Linked DNA regions of Homo sapiens. The protein of the gene in region 3 purifies or fractionates together with the protein of the main gene of each other region. This does not show direct contact. Each region holds a gene or a part of one and is shown on either strand. Other genes may lie near its edges.

The links.
Region 1: the proteins of MIOX (region 3) and MYO10 purify together in Homo sapiens (affinity purification with mass spectrometry; one large-scale study listed by BioGRID and IntAct). This does not show direct contact.
Region 2: the proteins of MIOX (region 3) and PBLD purify together in Homo sapiens (affinity purification with mass spectrometry; one large-scale study listed by BioGRID and IntAct). This does not show direct contact.

The regions. Positions count from the first base shown.
Region 1 is NC_000005.10:16,926,289-16,930,013, forward strand, and holds part of MYO10 (unconventional myosin-X), read right to left. Parts: intron 1-3,725. UniProt on the Homo sapiens protein: Myosins are actin-based motor molecules with ATPase activity. Unconventional myosins serve in intracellular movements. MYO10 binds to actin filaments and actin bundles and functions as a plus end-directed motor.
Region 2 is NC_000010.11:68,282,160-68,285,044, forward strand, and holds the end of PBLD (phenazine biosynthesis-like domain-containing protein), read right to left. Parts: intron 2,131-2,885; coding exon 2,018-2,130; 3' UTR 501-2,017; downstream 1-500.
Region 3 is NC_000022.11:50,485,355-50,489,658, reverse strand, and holds the start of MIOX (inositol oxygenase), read right to left. Parts: upstream 2,801-4,304; 5' UTR 2,762-2,800; coding exon 2,747-2,761; intron 2,278-2,746; exon of another isoform or gene 2,275-2,277; coding exon 2,194-2,274; intron 1,998-2,193; coding exon 1,917-1,997; intron 1,774-1,916; coding exon 1,611-1,773; intron 1,417-1,610; coding exon of another isoform or gene 1,385-1,416; coding exon 1,317-1,384; intron 965-1,316; coding exon of another isoform or gene 739-964; exon of another isoform or gene 646-738; intron 620-645; coding exon 510-619; intron 432-509; coding exon 364-431; intron 263-363; coding exon 213-262; intron 128-212; coding exon 15-127; intron 1-14.

The DNA.
Region 1 (3,725 bases), on a different chromosome or scaffold from region 3:
TATCATATGCAATCTCATTCTTTTTTTAATCTAAATAGTGCTGTATGAATTTCGCTGACAATGTCAGTAACTACTGTCCTGCCTCAGCAAAGCAGGCCATCTCTAGACTTAGATTAAGAAAAGAACAATCTGGCCAGGTGGGGTGGCTCACGCCTGTAATCCCAGAACTTCCGGAGGCCAAGGCTAGTGGATCAATTGAGGTCACAAGCTTCAGATCAGCCTGGCCAACATGATGAAACCCCGTCTCTACTGTAAATACAAAAATTAGCCAGGCATGGTGGCACACACTTGTAATCCCAGCTACGTGGGAGGCTGAGGCAGAAGGATTGCTTGAACTCGGGAGGTGGAGGTTGCAGTGAGCCAAAATTGCGCCACTACACTCCAGCCTGGGCGAAAGAGGAAGACTCTGTCCCAGCAAAAAAAAAAAAAAGAACAATCTAAGAACCACAAAGAAAGGTTCTCCACCTTGGTATTACTGTCCGTAAAACAAACTATTGTGACAATCTTGACTCTAACCACATAACAAGTGAGTTTGCTAAAATATGGACAAAAAAATAGATTTATGAAAAATATACTATGGAGTATACGTATTTATTACTCATGAAACATCAACAGAACACCCAGACATAGGCAACTGTAATTAAATTCACTCATGTTTGATATTTTGCTGACTTTCAGCAATAAAACCCATAGCTTTAAACATGTTTGTTGATTCTGCCCTAATGACAGATGTATTTGTCCAGGCAGAGTAGAAGCCATTTTATTTACCAATTTGTAAGCATGGTTTATAACTTTTAAATGTTTAGGTATGTGATATGGGAACTGAATTTGTACTCTTGCCTCTGGCCCCACAAATGATATTTAAAGCTTTTCTCAATCAACTCTTCAGTGAAAAACATTACAGGTGTGTTTTATCAGAAACATATATATGAAGGCATAAAAAAAAAGTCTCAATGCATCTACCACAAACATGAAGAGCCACACCATGGGAGCTTCTTTGTGTCTTCTGCTTATGGTATTTTCTTTTGTTTGTTTGTTTATTTATTTATTTATTGAGATGGAGTCTTGCTCTGTTGCCCAGGCTGGAGTGCAGTGGCACAATCTCGGCTCACTGGAAGCTCCGCCTCCCAGGTTCATGCCATTCTCCTGCCTCATCCTCCCGAGTAGCTGGGACTACAGGTGCCAGCCACCACGCCCAGCTAGTTTTTTGTATTTTTAGTAGAGACGGGGTTTCACCATGTTAGCCAGGATGGTCTGGATCTCCTGACCTCGTGATCCTCCTGCCTCGGCCTCCCAAAGTGCTGAGATTACAGGCTTGAGCCACCGCGCCCGGCCTTTAACTGCCGTAATTTAAAATGCTTTTATACGGAGGCAATTTTAATCCTTAAGAGCAGGCAGGGAGTCGGACTGGGTGAAGGTAGAGCTATTAGTTGGACAATTCCCATATGTTTCTCCCTTGTTCTAGCTGTATTTCAACAGATGTGTTGTGGCTTTGTCCCCAAAACTCTAATGTCTTTTCCTGTAACTGGCAGCATTAGATGACATGATGTCATGTGACATGAGGTGCTAGATTTACTTTAGGCCTGGTGGAAATATTTTCTGAACACCTCTTAGCAAGGCAGCAAAATGTTTTATTCAAGGAATGCTCTTGGGAAAACGACCCAATGTCCTGTCAATAACTGTTCCATGGGTATCGATAAGCTAACAAGCAAATGATAGGTGATATGAAGAAACTCCAACAAAGCACTCAGAATCTTTAACTGAAAAAGAAGATTCTATCAAAAAACCTCAAGTAACACTTCACTAATTAATTGACAGCTGGAATTAGGGAAACAAATGAGTCCCACATTTTCTTTTAATAAACACTTCTCAAATCATCTTGTTTTCTAAGTGCTTTATTTTGTTTTAATATTTTTATTATTACTATTACAATTTTGGAGACAGTCTCCCTCTGTCACCCAGGCTGGAGTGCAGTGGCTCACCGTAATCTTCACCTCCCGGATTCAACCGATTCTCCTGCCTCAGCCTTCCAAGTAGTTGCGATTACAGGCCCATGTCACCACGCCCAGCTAATTTTTGGATTTTATTAGAGACAGGGTTTCACTATGTTGCCCAGGCTGGTCTCGAACTCCTGACCTCAGGTATCCACCTGCCTCGGCCTCCCAAAGTGCTGGGATTACAGGCATGAGCACATGGCCCTAAGTGCTTTAGTATGTAAACCTTCCTACTATCCTCATGAAGTTGGGACAACCAGCTTTAGAAACCACACTTTATGGGCCGGGCATGACGGCTCACACCTGTAATCCCAGCACTTTGGGAGGCTGTGACGGGTGGATCACAAGGTCTGGAAATCGAGACCATTCTGGCCAACAAGGTGAAACCCCATCTCTACTAAAAATATCAAAAATTAGCCGGGTGTGGTGGCAGGCGCCTGTAGTCCCAGCTACTTGGGAGGCTAAGGCAGGAGAATCGCTTGAACCTGGGAGGTGGAGGTTGCAGTGAGCCGAGATCACACCATTGCACTCCAGCCTGGGCGACAGAGCAAGACTCCATCTCAAAAAACAACAACAACAACAAAAACACACACACACATTTTTAGAAGGAAACAGAAGGCGCTTGGCTTTCCCAAAAAAAGCAAATCAAATAAAAATTAGTGGCATGTTTTTTTTTTGGTTTTTTTTTGAGACGGAGTCTTGCTCTGTCGCCCAGGCTGGAGTGCAGTGGCGCGATCTCAGCTCACTGCAAGCTCCGCCTCCTGGGTTCACGCCCTTCTCCTGCCTCAGCCTCCCGAGTAGCTGGGACTACAGGTGCCCGCCACCATGCCCGGCTCATTTTTTGTATTTTTAGTAGAGATGGGGGTTTCACCGTGTTAGCCAGGATGGTCTCCATCTCCTGACCTCGTGATCCGCCCACCTCGGCCTCCCAAAGTGCTGGGATTACAGGCATGAGCCACTGCACCCGGCCAAATCAGTGGCATGTTCAAAAGCTGATGAACATTTTCCTGCGGAGTTTTCAACATTTCTAGGGTGTGGACTACTTGTTTTCCTAAACTCCCATGCAGTTTTCCACTTGAAAATCATTTAATAACTGCCCACTTTTAGGGCATTTCATCAGAGAGCCTAGAGAAGATGACGCAAGTTTAAGGCAAAGGACATCAACAGGACAGAAAAGCATGGCAGTGAAGAACTCTCTGTGGCTCTGGACACAGCCTGTCTGGGTTCAAATCCTGGCTATCGTTTTCTAGCTGTGTGACACTGAGTCAGTTACTTAACCTCTCTGTGCCTCACTTTCTTCATCTATGGATTGGGTATAATTATAGAGCCTTTCCCATAGGGTTGTTCAAGGGATTAAATGAGTCACTAAATGTGAAGTGCCAGCAACATGCCTGGCACATGGTAAGTACAGTTGTCCCTATGTATCTATAGGGAACTGGTTCCAAGACCTTCCCCAGATACCAAAATCCATGGGGAAAAGTCTACATGTTCAGTACAGATGCAATTTTTTTCTTGAATATTTTCAATCAGAGGTTGGTTGAATCCAGAGATGCAGAACCCACAGATACTGAGTACAGGGCTGACTGTACTCAAGAAACACTAGCCATATTTATTATTGTCTTCAAAGAACTGTAAGATACTTCATAATCAAGGGAAAAAGTTAGAAGCATCTCCCCTTCCCGCCATAAAATAATCTGAAAATAACCATTATGCAAGGATTGAATCTCAACC
Region 2 (2,885 bases), on a different chromosome or scaffold from region 3:
TAGTCCTAGCACTTTGGGAGGCCACAACAGGTGGATCACTTGAGGCCAGGAGTTTGAGACCAGCCTGGCCAACATGGTGAAATCCCATCTCTACTAAAAATACAAAAATTAGCCAGGCATGGTGGTGAGCACCTGTAATCCCAGCTACTTTGGAGGCTGTGTCATGAGAATCATTTGAACCTGGAAGGCGGAGGTTGCAGTGAGCCAAGATGGCACCAGCCTGGGCGACAGAGCAAGACTCTGTCTCAAAAAAAAAAAAGAATTTAGCATACATTTGAAAGATCAGATTCAGATCTGATCAAATTCAGGCCCTCTCAACTGTACATTTATATAAACTTATTCATATAGTTCAGTCTCAGGTTTGGAAAATCCAAAATTGGGGGAAAACCCTCTGGTGATTCTCGCCCTTGGTATCATGACCCGTGGGTGTGTTGTGATGAGTTGTGAGGTCTTCTGGGGGGCGGTGGGGCACTGGTTACTCAGTAAGTTAAGGCATTAAAGCTGGTGAATTATTGATTTATTGCACATCAGGAGAAACACAAGATTACTGCTATAATAAATTCACTCTTACATGCTTTAGCAAAAATCAGTAAAAATAGAAAACATGGTAACAATTAAAGTGAAAAAATTGGGGTCATTAAAGAATGTCTGACTGATTAGCTTGCAGTTTTTGAGACGGCTGAGAACTACCATCAATGAGATCACCTTAAACAAACACTCTTAATGACTTGAAAAAGTCCCCATCCCAAAGTCAACTATAGGTATTCAATATTGTATATTTAACTGAATTTAAAGTTATGTTAAAACCCATTTTATTGAAGTAAGAGAAGAATTCCTTTTACATTATCATTCTCAAGCCATATATCAAGAAAAAGATTGAAATTACATTCCTTTTTTTTTTTTTAATAGAGACAAGTTCTCGCTGTGTTGCCCAGGCTGGTCTCGAACTCCTAGGTTCAAGTGATCCTCCTGCCTTGTCCTGCCAAAGTGCTGGGATTACAGGCATGAGCCGCCACGCCCAGCTGAGATTACATTACTTTGAGTGTTTAATTTCACTATGACAGGAAGTAGCCTAATACATACTTTTTTGTGTTAATTTTCTGGATTCATCCTGATTTTTAGTCTTCGTACCTGAGTACAACAATAAAGGAAATCACTTCTTAGATACATTAAAATTACTTCTAAACTTGCCCCCCACACATGAACTGTTTTCAGTTTGCTATTTTTAATGGCCCATGCTTATTTATATAGACATAGCATAACACTGCTAACACTTTATGGCCTACTGTCCTCTTTCTTAGTATTATATTATAAAATATTTTTCTATATTTCCACATAGTTATTGACTCATTTTAATGGCTGCAAAATCAGGTACTCATTTAAGCTCAAATGGTTTAGTATCACTCCTCAGAAATGTATTCCTCCTTCTCTTGATTGGTAGTCATAATCAAATGAAGTGACATTATTCTTTGTAGCTGGTTACTTACATTTCAAATACACTCATGAGTGGAGCCAAAACTCCATTAGTTCATTAGTCTGGAAGCACTATTAAATCTCCATTAAAATGTCTTCACTTTTCAATTTTGTGTGTGTGTGTGTGTGTGTGGATGGAGTCTTACTCTGTTGCCCAGGCTGGAGTGCAGTGGTGTGATCTCTGCTCACTGCAACTTCTGCCTCCTGGGTTCAAGCGATTCTCCATGCCTCAGCCTCCCAAGTAGCTGGAATTACAGGCATGTGGCACCACACCCAGCTAATTTTTGTATTTGTAGTAGAGACGAGGTTTCACCATGTTGGCCAGGCTGGTGTCGAACCCCTGACCTCAGGTGATCCACCCACCTTGGCCTCTCAAAGTGCTACGATTACAGGCATGAGCCACTGCGCCTGGCCCATTTTTCGATTTTTAACATGAGGATTAAGTAGACTACTACGCACATTTGCTAAAGGCAGCCCCTTACATTTCTTTTTAAGCAGAAAATACTTGGTGGTTAGAGACAGCAGCGTCACAGCATAACCACCTCTAGGCTGTCAGTGTGCCCTCTAAAACAACAGCTGCACCTCCTCTAATGTCAACCCTTCCGTCTGGACGAAGGGAAATTCCCAGCTCTCCTCCTCGGTGGGAACACTGAAAAGCTAAAGAAAACAAACAGGTCAAATTAAGAGTATTTTCACCCTTTTAAATTAACAAAGCATAGTGAAAGACTTATTACAAATCTTAGAGTCCTCCCAGATCAGTTTCAAGAATAAATTCCTTCGTCTGTTTATGGTACTGCCCACTCCCATCCCCATTCTCCTGCAGACTGAGAAAGCCACAAACTCAATTTGATCTACAGAACACACAGCTCCACATACTCCCTTCCTGAGCCTTTTCCTGGGCCATCTCCTTCACTAATTCCTGTAATGGCCCAGACACACCCCACTCATCGCTTCTTCCCCTGCTCTCTCTAGGAGTAAGCAAAGATGTTTGAAACAATAGAGGCAGGCCTATAACTCTAGGAAGATGAAGAAGGGTGGTCTCAGCCCTCTTGAGAAGGCCCCCATCTTCTCAGCTCTGAATAGGACAGAGGGAGTTCATTCACTCATAACATATTCAAGCAACCACGTGTTCCAGGCAGACAAAAGAGGCATAGCCTCAGCCTTCCAGGAGCTCAGTACTTAGGAGAATAATTAGACTCGCCAAGGAAAATGAATAGCCACCTTGCTCTCTCCAAATCAGGGTCACAGACTCCTCCTTGGATGATCAGGGCAGTGCAGCCTCCATTGGCTGCCATCATTTTTCTCTGCCTCTAAGCAATACATTAATCACTAGGGGACTTGGTTCCAAAGTAATTTGTTTGATTCAATCCTGTGACTAGCAATAGCAGTAAGGAACCTTGGTCATCATCCAG
Region 3 (4,304 bases):
GTAGCGGGGCGTACTTGAACTCCCGCACCCAGGGCAGCATGGCCAGGTCCTGCTGGCTGCACAGCTGCTGGTAGTCGCGGCCCGTGTGCCAGGGGTAGAAGGAGTGGAACCGGATCATGTAGAAAGCCTGCGGGCAAGGCCACCCAGCGGCTCACTTGGGGCTGCAGGACCGGGCCTGGTGGACGGGCTGCGTTGCCCCTCCCCCCACCTACCTCAGGGGGCAGTGAGAACTTGTTAAACTTCATCACCTGGTACATGTACTCTGTGGGGAGAGGGTGTCACCAGCAGGCACTGCCTCTGCCCCACCGCCCCCCACCGTCCCCCACCGCCCCCCACCGCCCCACTGCCCGCCTCTGGCCTCACCATCATGGCCCCAGGACATGAGGACCCTGTCGAGCCCACAGTGGGGCTGATACATCCCGAGCTCTGTGCTGCAGTGAGATACCAGGGTGAGGAGGGCTCAGCAGCCGCCCAGGGAAGGGGGCCCAGCCCTCAGCAGCAGGGAGCACCTGTATCGAGGATCCTGGAGGTCAGGGTTGTCCTGGAAGGTGGAGTCGCAGAAAACCACGGAGGCCTGCGGACGGCATCCGACGGGGAAGGTGTCGCCGACGACAGCCCACTGCAGAGGGACAGGAGGGACGGGAGGCCATGGGGGGAGTGGGGGAAGGTGTCGCCGATGACCACCCACTGCAGAAGGACAGGAGGGACGGGCGGCCATGGGGGGAGTGGGGGAAGGTGTCACCGATGACTGCCCACTGCAGAGGGACAGGAGGGACGGGCGGCCATGGGGGGAGTGGGGGAAGATGTTGCCGATGACTGCCCACTGCAGAGGGACAGGAGGGATGGGAGGGACGGGAGGGACAGGAGGGACGGGAGGGATGGGAGGGACAGGAGGGACAGGAGGGACAGGCAGCCATGGGGGGCCGTGGGGGAAGTGGGGGAAGGTGTCGCCGACGACCGCCCACTGCAGAGTGACAGGAGGGACAGGCGGCCATGGGGGGCCGTGGGGGGAGTGGTGCGGGGAGGCCGTGGGGGGTGCACTGGCCTGTCCCCCAGGTAGTATCCCAGGCCAAGCACCGAGGCCACCAGAGGGACAGGCAGCCGTGGGGGGGGCCGTGGGGGGTGCACTGGCCTGTCCCCCAGGTAGTATCCCAGGCCAAGCACCGAGGCCACCAGAGGGACAGGCAGCCGTCGGGGGGCCGTGGGGGGTGCACTGGCCTGTCCCCCAGGTAGTATCCCAGGCCAAGCACCAAGGCCACTCCACCCCCACCTTGCCTCAACATGCAGCCTCCTCACCCTCCACTTCCAACTCTTACCTGGGGCTCCCCGAACAGGGCCAGGACCTTCCCCAGGTCGTGCAGGAGCCCGACGAGGTGGAACCAGTCTGGGAGGGGGATGGACAGGGCAGGTTGGGGACTGCAGGGGCCAAGGCAGAGGATGAGCAGGTTTGCGGGGCTGAGAGCCAGGAAGGGTCCAGGGCCTGCTCCCCAACCCAGGCAGGGCTGCTGGAGGAGGCCTGGGCCCACTACTGTCCCCTCCCACCCTACAGGCTGCTGCATTCTGCCCCTTGGAGGCAGCACCTGCCCCCCTGCAGCACAGCCAGGGCTCACCCTTGTCTGGGTGGGCCTTCCGGATGCCCTCCGCTGTCTGGAAGGCATGGAAGGAGTTGGGGAAATCTACGTCCGGGTCCGACTCATCCACCAGCCCATCCAGCAGGTCCACGGCCTCCATGACTGTCATTTTCTTGTAGGAGAAGCCCCCAAACTGGGCATGCTGGCGGGGAAGGAGAAGGCAGTGTGGCCCAGGGTCAGCAGGCCCACCACACAGGCCTCTCCATCCCCTCGGCGCCTGGTGGGCTCATGGGGCTGAGGGCAAGGGTCCCTCCGCGTTTGCACGGGGCGGCAGGAAACGCCTACCTTGCTCCTGACGAAGTCCACTGTCTGGTGCGTGTGCATGAGCTTGTAGGTGGTGAAGACACGGTCCAGGAGGGGACCTGACTGCAGGCCGGAGGGTCAGTGGCGCCACCCCCACCCTGCACACGAGGCCCCATGCCTCCCCTCTCCCAGGCAGCCCCACAGGGTGTGATGGGGGTGGGAGTTCCCACAGGGCACCCCCTGGAACTGTGTGAAGGGCAAGTGCTGCTCCCCAGGGTGTGGATGGGGGAGAAGGGGGGCAGGACGGCAAGGTACTCACCGTGTAGTTCCGGAAGCTGGCCTTGTCTTTGGCCACCTCTGGGTCCACATCAGGTCGGTAGACCAGGGAAGGGTCTGGGCCCTGGGTAGGTGGAGGATTGAACCTATTTCACCATCATGTCAGCTCCACGAGGAAGCACAGACATTCCCAGGGTGGCTGCAGACTCCAAGCCTGCCTCTGCTCGAGGGCTGGTGGGTGACACGCGAGGACACAGCCTCTCCCACGCCATCATCCCAGCCCCTGCCCTGGCCTCAGCGAGTCCCAGGAGCTCTCACTCCCAGGTCCTCATCTGCAAAGCGAAAGTCAGCAGACGTCTGCTTCCGGGGTACAGGGGACACCACGCCTGAGCGGCACCCATGGCCACCCTTGAGGGGTGGAAGTGGCTTTGGGAGGAGACTGAGTCCACAGGGAGCCTGGGGGTCGGCAGCCGCTGGCTCTTGCCCAGCTGGACGGAGGAGGAGGGCTGGCCAGTGCCAGCTAGAAGAGGGCGGGAGTGGCTGGCCACCAGGAGAGCAGTCAGCAGAGCCTCTCTGCATGGGGTCTGGGTACTCACCACCGTCACCTTCATCCTGAGAGGGAGCGGCGCTCAGGTGGCAAAGCACAGGCTGGCGAGTGTGTCCTCAGCCAGGCTCCTATATACACCCCAGGTTACATAAGTGTCCGCAGTAATAAATGACCATCCACCCTCCTCCCGGCCTCAGGGAGTTAATGTGTCAGCACAGCAGCAGCCCCCAGCAGTCCCACATCCTCTGGCCCTGACTCAGCCTCACACTCCTGTCCCGAGCCGCTGACCTGCCTAGGGTTATCTGTGGGCCCAGCCTCCCACTTGGGCCCTGGCCTTAGACCCCTCTGTGGGGTCCCACAAGTAGGGGCAGACCCAAGACCCCACCCTCAAGCACACGCCCCCTCTGCACCACCCCTTCCCCGGCTGCCCCACTGGATCTCAGGAGGTGAAAACTTGTCCCCAGGCCCCCCGTGATTCTGGGTGGGGCAGGAGCTTGTTAAGAAAAGATGATTCTGAGGACTTGTTAAAATGGTGAGAAAAGCTTTATTCAAGAGAGTGGTGAGAGGAGCTCACCTCCGAGTTCAACAACCACAGCTGGAGATTGATGGCGTTGGAGGGGTCAGCGGATGGGAAGTTGTTAGGGCGGCCTTCGAGGGTAGGGGGATTCTCACTGGAGTGGCTCAATGAGGATCTTGCAGGAGGCCGGCAGGGTGATGAGATCAAGGGTGGGAGATGAGGAATGGGATCAGATATCGAGGGTGGGTAATTCTCCATAAACTGATTTAGAGGATTCTTGCTAACACCGGGGTCGGCGGGCCCAGCGAGGATGGGGATGGGGTCAGGCCTCGTCGAGGAAAGGACTCAGGGGCACCTGCCTAGAGTTCGGCCACAGAGTGTGTCAGGCTCTGGGAGAGGGGCCTCACGGAGAGTTGGAGCAGGCACGGAACCGCCAACACCCAGGCCGCCAACGCAACTTCCCATGCATGGGCCCTGCAGGCATGGAGGACACCGTGAGAACAAAGTGCCCGCGGCAGAGCTGGCGTCTTGGAGCGTGGCCAGGGAAGTCTGGGAACAGCAGTCGGCTGGGGCAGGAGAGAGGGCAGTGGGGTGCTGGGGCCATACCTAGGGCTGTGAAGATCAGAGTTCTGGGCTTCAGGGGTCAGGCAAGAGGGCTGTGGGCAGCTGACCTGACTCAACAAGATCCTGGCACAGCTGAGCTGAGAAGCAACTGTGAGGAGACCCCAGCGCCCCCCATTTAAACGGCACCTGCCCCACACTCTCCTTCCTTGTCTGACTTCCTGTGGCACTCAGCACTCCCTGCCACTCCACCACCCACTTATTCTACCTTCTACGTTTGTCTCCTTCTATCTCCCCCTAGAATGTCAGCCCCTGGGGGTCAAGGCTGTATCCTCACGTGTCCCAACACGGGTAGGTCACGTGCTCAGCATGCACTGGCCAGAGGGATGCAGACAGGTGCCTGGGAGGAGGCTACGGCCATCGCCCCGAAAGCAGGTGGTGCCTGGGTCAGGAGAAGGTGTCTGGATAGGTTCAGGAGGTGGGACCGGGTGGGATTCAGAGGAAGGTGTGAAGGAAGAGAGGAGGTTTT